Regions from separate parts of the Homo sapiens genome. Here region 1 is linked to region 2. The links come from fine-mapping of genetic effects on gene expression. Tissue or cell type: tibial artery. Region 2 holds a variant in brackets; the other region holds the start of a gene. All regions are shown on one strand. Distances are from middle to middle. Region 1 holds the start of ANKRD50 (ankyrin repeat domain containing 50). Region 2 has its middle 83 kb from the start of ANKRD50.

Region 1 (5,389 bases), 83 kb after region 2:
AGTAACCAGAGAAACTCTCAAGGCTGCTGATCCTGCTAGACACGTGGCATAGCAGTTCAGTGTGCCCTGGCTTGCTGCAGCTGCCTTCCACGTGCAAGAAGCCACTTCTGAGAATCAGTAGTAAATGGAGAAAATTACATGTGAGGTATATCTGAAATATGTGAAATAGAGACTGACTTATCCTGTAGTAGAGTATAGCAAGTAGGCTGAACTCTTTTTGTATAATGCAGAGTTCTTTAAATTTGTGGCATAACCTGAAAGACTGCCAAGCATAAAACATCACTTTGTAAATAAACCTGAGTGACTTACACAAGTTAATTTAGAGGACTAAAATGAGTCCTCTAAATTTTCACAGCCTTTCATGTAAAATCATTAGAACTCTAAAGTCATAGATTTCAAATTTTGTAGCTTTCAGGTATTGCTATAATTATTACAGAACTTGCAAATATAAAGAAATTCAAATTTACCTCTACCAAACAAGGAACTGAATGTACTCGATGATGAAAACACAGACATTATAAAAGACGTAATTTTTGAAACTTAGAATTGTGCTTTGGAATATCTCAACTTGTGGAATCTTTTGATGGAGCTGTTGCTTTTAATTGGATGAAACTATATTTTGTATCTAAATGGATTAAAATTGAGATGACATAATTTTGTAGTATTTAAACTTGATTGATACCATCAAAATAAACGTACATTTTCAAGACTTATATAATGAGCTTTGTTTTGTAAAAACACTTGTTGCACAATATAACTGAGTGAGGTTTAAAAAAATACAACAGCTAGGAAAAGATTTGAACTGAAAAATTTGTACATTTCAATATAGAGAAATTAGAATGGAGAATATATTTTATTTAGCAGAGTGTGTTTTGAGCTTAATACGTATCTCACCACTTAATTTTCCATTTAAAACATTATAGTCTTCAGAGAAGCATTCGTTAAAGCTGTCAGTAATTTCAAATTTATGTGAAACTGTGATGATTTCAGGAAATTTTATGAACAAATTAAAAATAAGAAAGGCCACATTGAAAAAAATTGCATTCTTTGGAAAAATGCGAGTATCTGGTATTGGAGAAAATACAACTAAGAAACTGATTAAAGTATGTGAATATGTACCAAGAGTAAGTATTCTGCTTATGCCACGTTTAACATTTAGGTAATTGATAAAAAGAAGTTTCATAAAATTATATATGTGTGTATATATACATATACGTCACTGTTAAGGGTTTTCTATTAAAAAAAGCAAAAAGCAATAAAAATAAAATGTGAAATAAATTTTAAAGCAAAAAACAAAATTCTAAATAGGTCTGAAGATTAATTACAGCTTAGTTACAGCTGATGTTATTTAAAACAGCATTCCATGATACTGCTTAGTTATCATAAATGAGGCCCACTAAACAAAAAGTTTCGGTAACTTCTCTACTGGGCAGAAATTATTTTAATTATTGTGTTAGCAAACGGCTTAATAGAAATGATAATGTGATATACATTATTTCTCATTTAAATTTTCCTCTAAACATAAAATTTTACAACCATGAAACTGAAGGAGTCAACCTGTTCAATGACTATAAAGCTGCGTGGCAAACAAGCTAAGTGGGAATTAAAACAGCTTAGGCAAAAATAAATAAAAATTGTAGCTTTTTAAAAATCAATTTTCATCCCCCTAATTCTGGAGAATTTATACTCTGCCTCTTTTGCTTGTGTTTTAGGAAAGAAGCCCAAAATTCAGGGTACATGAATTAAAATTAAATACTAAGATCAGTAAACCTCAATTGGCACGAATAAACAATATGAAAGAGTAAGCACAAACACGATCTATTTGTTTATCCATCTTTCTTATTGTGATAGCTATACTATGAAATTTCTAAAACTAGATGGGAGACTGGCTTAATATTTTGGCAAATAACCACATGCAAGTTAATGAGGAATGGGAAATAGAGCACTCTGGATTTTAGCATAAACAATTAAAATAAAAAATGCTACATTTCCTATTCCATCAGTTGACGGTATACTTATTTTCCCGGGAGAAATTTGGAATCTAAGCAACTCAGGTCCAGTAAGTGCAAACAACTGACATGCTTAGTCCAACAGGCCCCTGTGAGCAGGCCCTCTAGGGCATTTCCTGACGCCACATGACCAAGACCTTCCCCCCTAGTGGACGCTGCGGGTGATCAAGTGGCCCTGAGGAGCAGGGGCCTGAGACCCAGTCAAGCCTGCTGTCAACCTCCATCTGATGGAGGCCACGTCCTTTTCATGAGGCTGGTAGGAATGTCGCTGTATACCCCCACTATTTCTATTTTCGCAACATTCTTCCCAGTCTTTTCCTTCCTTCTCTTCGTCCCAGCCAAAGTAAAAGCATCCCTGGAATTTAATGGACTGAAAGGAGACCGGACGACTGAGGGGTAGAACGGGGCCCGAAGTGGCTTTGGAAGCAACGGGGTTAAGGGAGAGGCAAAAGGGTTGAGCAGAGAGAGGCAAGAGGCAATCTCCCCCTACCCAACTGCCCCTCCCAGGAGCAGATACGGCACCAACAGCCGGCGAGTCCCTCCGGCCTGGAAGACAAAGGAAGGATCAGGGCCCAGTGGTGACGGGGAGGGTGGGGGCAACGACTCGCGTGAGCTCGGAGACGTGAGAACGCAGCCCCCGCCCCGTTCTCCGCCTCCCCTGAGAAAGGCGGGGCCCCCACGCCGCCCCGAGACAGGTCTCCCCGCCGCGCCGGCAGCGGGTCCCAGGCGGCCGCACACGCCCAGGCACGGGATGCTGCGGGAGAGCGCGGTGGGGGAGGGGAAGGACGCGGAGGCGGAGCCGGCGGGCAAAGAAAGGCCGAGCGGCGGGGCGGGGGCGGGGGCGGGGGCGGGGTCTGGGCTGGGCGGGCGGGGCGGAGCCGGCCGGCCGGGGGCTGCCTGAGACAGTTACTGCCCTGACGGCGGCGGCGGCGGCGGTTGGCCGGTGGGGGCTGGGGCGAGCACGACCGATTCTGCTGGGAAAGCTGGAACTGGCAGCCGCCGGGGGCCAAGAGGAGGATCCGGAGCTGGGAGCGTGCCCCGGGCCCGGCGGAGGAGGCGGCTGCAGTTGGAGTGGAGTCTTGGGAGCGCTGCTGGCAGCGACTTCTCAGCGAAGCAAGTGTCTGAGACTGAGAGTCCCTAACAGCGGCAGCGGCGGCCACGGCGGCGGCTGGGGCCGAGGTAACCGGGGGGCGGCGGCGGCGGTGGAAGCGAGGCCCCTCCCTCGGGTTGGAAGCTGGGAGGCCGAGGCCGTGGCTTGGACCTGACCCAACCACCCACCCTCTCCGGCCTCGAGCCCCAGATTTGCCCTCTTCCCTCGCACCGCCGTCGGCCGGGTGGGAGCGGGAGCGGGGCATGGGGCGGGAGCGCAGAGGCGGAAGCCGACCGGGAGGCGACCCCTCGTCTGGGATTGGCAAGGACCTCAGTCACCCCCTCCCCCTTCAAAAGACACACCCCAATCTCGGTGCGGGGCGGGGTGCAGAGGCGCTCCCAGCCTCTGGAAGGGCAGACCTCGGTGTGGAGGCTGCACCTTCGCTCGTGGCCTCTCTGAGGTGGCTCCCCTGTGGCTCCTCTGGGCGGTTCCAACCCAAGGTGGTGCCCGGCGCTGGGAATCCCGGAGTTCCTTTTGTCTGTCAGCTGAAACTGGAGGCCGGACCTGTGGGCAGACACCCACCAGCACCGAAGCACTCTACTCTTTATCCCTTTCCTGTCTTGGAAGGAATTTCTCTCTAGCAGCCTTTTCTCCGGCCAGACTGGTAGATTTTATCCCTGACCTCCATCCTTGGCCCAGAGGAAGGAAGGATTCACATTTTACTTGTGTTTGCTTTATCATTCTTATAAGAACAGTCATCCCCCATCGTTTTTGTTTTTTTTTTTTAAACCGTTTCCCATCCAGCTGCAACCCTGGTAATCTTCCCCTAGATTTTTGCACATTATCAACAAAGAAGTGTGGCTGGAGGAGTAGACAGTCCTTGACTGACTGGACTGTGTAAGTTAATAGAGCTTCCTTAGCTGGCGCTGTTCTACCAGTCTACTGTGAATGAGCGTTTTGCCTGGAGTTAAGGGTGTTACTGTATGTGCGTAAAGTTTCTCCCCCCCTCCTTTGCTATGGTGAAGTTGCAAAAATCTTGGGTAACTTGATTAAAATGTGGCTGTTTGGGAAGCATAACAATGAGGAAGAAAAATGCAGAAGGGAGAATGTGATTATTTCAGTGGTTTTTGTCCAACTTTTTGAAAGTGCCAAAGGTGAAGTACGTGGATTTTTGAGATTACGTTAACTGGTACACTGCAACCTTTATTGTCCTTAATAAGTTTTTAACATATGATATTTTGCACTGAGGTATTTTTGTTTGTTTTATTTTAGTTACTTGTGGAAATTGTTGATTACCCGGACGTCTTAAAACCAAGAAACCTGTGAACAGGTTCATTAAGAATCTGCTGTCTTGAAAAATGCATATTATGAATGCTTTGAATTAAGAAGGTGTTAACAGTGGTTGTCATTTCTGCCACATAAGAGACTATAATCTGAAACAGTTCCTGGCAGTTGCCCAGATGCCTGAAACTGGCACGATCTAGTACTCTTGAGTGATCATCCTTCAACGAGAAATACAGAGCTACTTACATACTGTACCTCATACCGTATAAATGTAATCTCTCTGATGCCATTTAATGCAGTGGACCTCTTTTCAGAATCTAATTGTCAGATGCAGAATTAACACTTGGAATCTGGAGAAGCATTTTGTACAAATTGAAAGATTGGGTTTTTTCTTTAGTTTTCCACATGTATTGTCTCATCTCTGTTCTTGAAACATCCACAATCACATAAACTCCAGTTATAACCATGGAGTTATGTGACTCATTAAAATTTAGGAAAAGTGTTGCTGAGCTGTGGAATCAGGCGTTTCTCCCTCAGTTCAACAACTAATACATAGACTGCTGATCAAGAATAAGGAACCAAATAAAGTCATGCACGTTCTGTTGACAGAGGAACTCTGTGGCTGTTGAATTTTACTGTAACTAGTTACTCTGTCTTCAGAGTCAACTTAATATACAAGTTATGTCATAATGGATGGAAAGACCTGTGTTGATGTATCCAGACTCTAGCAAATGAAGATAAAAAACCCGTTATGACTAATCCTTGGGAAGAGAAAGTCTGCAAAATGGCTCAAACCAGTTTACTGCAAGGGAAGCAGTTTTACTGTAGGGAGTGGGTTTTCCACAAGCTTCAGCATTGCCTCCAGGAGAAAAGTAACTGCTGCAATAGTGCTGTCAATGCACCATCACTTGTAATGAATTCTGGGAATAATGCTAGTGGTGTCTCTGGAAAGGGAGCTGCCTGGGGTGTGTTGTTGGTAGGAGGGCCTGGCAGTGGCAAGACGGCC
Region 2 (5,389 bases):
ATAACATAGTTTATAGCCTTTTCTTGAATTACTGAAAAATGAAAACAAAAAATATTGTATGCTTTTATATAATCTAAATAAAACACTCTGGAGAATGGTTTGTTCTCCAGTTATTAAATTTTTTTCTCTCTACAACTATTTACCTTGACTTTTATAAATTTTGTATAAATTTAAGGGGTATAAGTACAATTGTTACATGCATACATTGCTTAGTGGTGAAATCTGGGTTTTAGGGTTCCCATCACCCAAATAATATACATTGTACCCATTAAGTAATTTCTCATTGGTCTCCCCGCTTTCAATGTACCTTTTTATCTTTTTCTGGTTTAAAGACCATCTCCTGGATAGACAGCATTTTAAGAAGTCTGAACACTAAGTAAGTCCTCAAAAGGCTAACAATACACATCTTAGCCCACAAAGTTCCCTTCTAGCCCACTTGATCCTAAAGATCTTCCTTTAAGAAGCTATTTTAATTAGGTGAAGTTATTTCAATGTTTTACTTCTCTATTCAGGATACTAAGAAATAGTTTCTAATAATTTGATAGTATAGTTCAAGCAAAGCACTAGAGAAATTAGAAAAGTAAAAAAGGGAATTAATTAAGTTGGGTAGAGAGTTCCTAAAGGGGTGGGGTTTAAAATGATTCCAGCAAAACAGGGAGAAAAATAGGAGAGTGCTTCCTTGTAGGAAAAATAGGATGGACTCTAAGAAAAATATTTTCAAATGTAATGGCAAAATAACATGAACTCAGACCTCATTTAAAACTGGAAAGTATGACTAATTTTAGCAAACAGTTTAGAAATTTTAAAACCTACTTCTTTACTGAACATTTAAAATATTTATTCTAGTTCATGTAGGAAAAAAGGAATTTTTGAATGTGAATTTCTTTTTTAGTTTTAGATGACACAATTCCAATCAGTAAGAAGAAATCATCGTTGATTAAAACTGACAGAAATAGAAGTCGGAATTATATATGTATGATATATGAACTGTAATCATGTTTTACCAAGTGAATGCTAAATCACCCAGTATATTTCAAAGCAGTTTTTTTTACATATGGTATATCATTTGCAATAAACAGGCTGATATACAAATTTTCCCAGATGGTATGTGTGTGGAAATGATCTCAGTGGTATGTTATTCTTATAATTATCTTTCTTGAAAGGAAACTAAATACAAAAGATAGGCAAGTTAGCATAAGTCTACATACTCGGACCAACAAGAAACTTGGCTTTGGACAAACAAGAATTTTAGTTAAAATTTCAAAATATAATTAACTGTTGGCCCTCTATTTCTTCCAGCTATGCTGACAAATTGTCATCATATATAGATACAAGACTATTCTAGGATGTATTGCTTATCCTATTGCTTCACGTCCTCACTACTCTACTCTTCTCAGAAAAACTTGCTCATATAATCACATGATGAGACTCCAGGATCTATTAAAAGTATATGTTTGTTGATTGTTAATATATTTACATTTCAAGAGACTACACGGGATACCTCAAAAAACAAAAGGGTCATAGATACAAAAAGACCCAAGTTTCAGTCATGGCTCCATCAGTTACTACTTTTAGCTGCTCATACAATATGTGAGGACACATACAACTTTGAGACCAGAGTGGTAAAATGGAGATAAAATTACCTGTTGTAATTATTAAAAGTATTTGTAAAACAAACACTACAATAGGATCATTGACATAACTGACACACGATAAACATTAGTTACCATTTCATAAAGAAAGAGTTGTTTAAATGGTTTACTTTTAAAAAATAATATTAGTATTTCCCATCATCCAAATTTCAGGTTGGAAATCAAAGGGTTTTTTTTTAAAGCTTTCTTTTATTTATCCATAAACAATAAAACTCAAGGTAAATAAAACTCAATACACACGCACAGGACCCCACACAGCCTACCTTCATTTATGACTTCAGGACACTCAGCACATATTCCAATGACATTGACATTTACAAATAACTGAGAATTCTTATTTGAAATTTTCTTCACAGTATTCTTTTTTTGAAAATTTTTAATGGTGTTACAATGAAATCCTACACATTTCATGAGTGAGATTTTTTATAAGAAATTTATGGAAATAATTTAGCAAAAAAAGTAGAAACAAATTTGATGAAAATATTAGTCATACTAATTTTGTTAAATGCAAAGTATCTAATTTAATAAAATTGAGCTAAAATGGAATATAAATTCACTTCATTTATTGACTATATTGGTATGTCTTTTTTTAACCATATGAAATCATGTTAAATGTATTTACTTTTACAAAAGAACAAATCTAATGATATGAAATTTATTTCATAAATCATAGTTAATATAGACACATCTAAGGATGTGTTATAAATATACTAATTGGAAGATGTAAATAATTCATGCCTCAGTCTTACATTTGGGCTTTTATTGGGAGTGTCTTCAGTCTTTGAAAACCCCCTAATTTTAAGTATATGCTTGTATGATAGTAATGGTTGTAGCCAAGTAAGGCAGATGATAGAAGAGGTAAAACACAGTTGTTGGGACCATATTGGGGAAAAGTCTTCTTATAAACTTAAGAGGGAATTATTTGCAGTCAGCTTCAACAATTATTTATGGAGCATCTGCTCAGTGTTCAGAACTGTGCTATTTGGCACTATTTTTCTTT[C/G]TAAATTTGGATATTCCAGTTAAAAATCCTTAACTGTCAAGGAGAAATATTTAGCCTTTGCTTGGGACGGTTGAGTCATTGCTAAATTGCTTGAAATGGGATTTAAACACAAGGATAGTTTTATTTCTGCTAAATCTCTACTTTAAAAATTAGTCAATTATCAATTTTTAAAAGCTCCTTCACTCCTATTTGAAAATTACAAAACTACAGCAAATAAGTCAAATATTTCGAGAGCTTGATTTGCAAGATGTTCAGAATAATAACTTTTAAATATTTAATTAAATGCTTTTTAGATAGTAAGGACAGAGATCACATCTTTGTAATGCATCCTGAATACCTTGAAAGTAATACCTGGTACAAAAATAAAGGCATTTAATAAATATTTCTTGAAAAGATCTGAACTTACCAACAACTCAGAATGAGTTTGAAATAAATGACAATTTTATGAAAAGAGAATACTGCTTTCTAGATAATTATTTTAAATTGAGGAGACAGAGGGAATAATAGAAATACCAATTGTATCTAGAATACTGTGAATATGCTAGAAAAGATCATATATACACACAAAAAAAGAAATATTTCTTTTTCCCATTTGCTGAAGGACGCTTTCGAGAAAAGCATTTCCTCTTCATCTGAATGCCTTTACAATATATTTATTATAGAATAGGGCTTGGGAAATAGTGAGTTTTTTGGAAACAGTTTGGTTTGCTTTTTATGAAATATTTCATAAGTTGTGCTTTGAAAAAAATACCACAGACATTGTTTTGACATAATTCAGTGAAGATCTGGACAGACTTATGTAACTCTATTATTATTATTCAATAATTTCCAAGGAGGGAACACATTTGTATTTTCATATTGATACAATTTTAGATATAGAAGAGGGTGCAGCACCCACAATGTAAAAAGAAGATTGTGTCAACGGCTAGCAAATCACTACACTTAATAAGGGTGACCAAAGCTGACCGAGTAATAAATGTACTGGGAAAATCAAAACACAGATGGCTTCCTTTTGTGTTCTTTTATCAGAGAGGAAAAAAGCATCTTTTACAATGGGCCATAACTGATTCACCTAGAGATTAGGCTCTCATGAAGGCAATTATGCTTTTGGAGCTTTAATCACTCAGTGGCATGAGGAACATTCTGTATCACTCCCTTAAAATGAAGGGACCACCTATCATTTCTGTACCATATAACGGAAAATGAGACTAAAGTATAAAAGACAAACAAGTCAAATAATATTTCTCCTTTAAAAAAGGTAGCACATTAAAAAGCACCATATTTCTTTTTTAAGTTCTGGAATACATGTACAGGATGTGCAGATTTGTTACGCAGGTAAATATGTGCCATGGTGGTTTGCTGCACCTATTGACCCATCACCTAGGTACTTAATCGCAGCATGCATTAGCTCTTTTCCCTAATGTTCTCCCTACCTTGCCGCCCAGACAACATGACAGGTCCCAGTGTGTGTTGTTCCCCTCCCTGTGTCCATGTGTTCTTATTGATCAGATCCCACATATAAGTGAGAAAATGTGCTGTTTGAGTTTCTGTTCCTGTGTTAGTTTGCTGAGAATAACGGCTTCCAGCTCCATCCATGTCCTTGCATAGGATATAATCTCATTCCTTTTTATGGCTGCATAGAATTCCATGGTGTATATGTACCATATTTTCTTTATTCAGTCTTCCATTGATGGGAATTTGGGCTGATTCCTTATCTTTGCTGTTGTGAATAGTGCTGCAATGAACATATGTGTGCGTGTATCTTTAGAGTAATATATTCCTTTGGGTATATACCCAGTAATGAGATTGCTGGGTCAAATGACATTTCTGGTTCTAGGTCTTTGAGGAATCACCACAATGCCTTCCATAGTGGTTGAACTAATTTATATAACCACCACCAATGTAAAAGTGTTCCTATTTCTTCACAGCTTCACCAGCATGTGTTGTTTCTTGACTTTTTAATGATCACCATTCTGACTCATGTGAGATGGTATCTCATTGTGGTTTTGATTGGCTTTTCTCTAATGATCAGTGATGTTGAGCTTTTTTTTTGTATGTTTGTTGGCCACATAAATGTCTTCTTTTGAGAAGTGTGTGTTCATGTATTTGGCCTACTTTTTAATGGGGTTGTTTTTTTCTTGTCAATTTATTTAAGTTTCTTGTAGATTCTGGATATTAGACCTTTGTCAGATGGATACATTGCAAAACTTTTCTCCCATTCTCTAGGTTTCTGTTCACTTTGATGATGGTTTATTTTGCTACTTCCACACAATAATAGTGGGAGACTTAAACACCCCACTGTCAATATGAGACAGATAGTCAAGACAGAAAATTAACAAAAATATTCAGGACCTAAACTCAGCACTGGATCAAGTGACCTGCTAGCTATGTAGAGAAGTCTCTATGCAAAAACAACAGAGTATACATTCTTCTCGGCTCCACATGATACTTACTCTAAAATCAATCACATAATTGGAAGTAAAACAGTCTTCAGCAAATGCAAAAGAACTTAAATCATAAAAGTCTCTCAGTCCACAGCACAATCAAATTAGATCTCAAGATGAACAAACTCACTCAAAATCACAAAACTACATGGAAATTGAACAACCTGCTCCTGAATGACTCCTGGGAAAATAATAAAATTAAGACAGAAATCAAGAAGTTCTTTGAAACCAATGAGAACAAGGAAACCCAGAATCTCTGGGACACAGCTAAAACAGTACTAAGAGGGAAATTT

What was found.
Region 1: ANKRD50 starts here. The variant in region 2 is fine-mapped to the expression of ANKRD50 in tibial artery (GTEx, PIP above 0.99). The same link has a PIP of 0.9 or more in coronary artery and subcutaneous fat.

Annotation. Positions count from the first base shown.
Region 1 is chr4:124,710,257-124,715,645 of GRCh38, reverse strand. It overlaps ANKRD50 (ankyrin repeat domain containing 50), which reads left to right and starts at 2,914. Exons shown (of 5, transcript NM_020337.3): 1 at 2,914-3,188; 2 at 4,372-5,389. The coding sequence starts at 5,135. RefSeq lists enhancers at 2,375-2,940, 2,941-3,506 and silencers at 2,658-3,037, 3,188-3,427.
Region 2 is chr4:124,793,150-124,798,538 of GRCh38, reverse strand. No RefSeq gene overlaps it. Among named protein-coding and RNA genes, the nearest start is that of ANKRD50, 83 kb to the right of the region's middle. The variant C/G (reference allele first, on the strand shown) is at 2,653.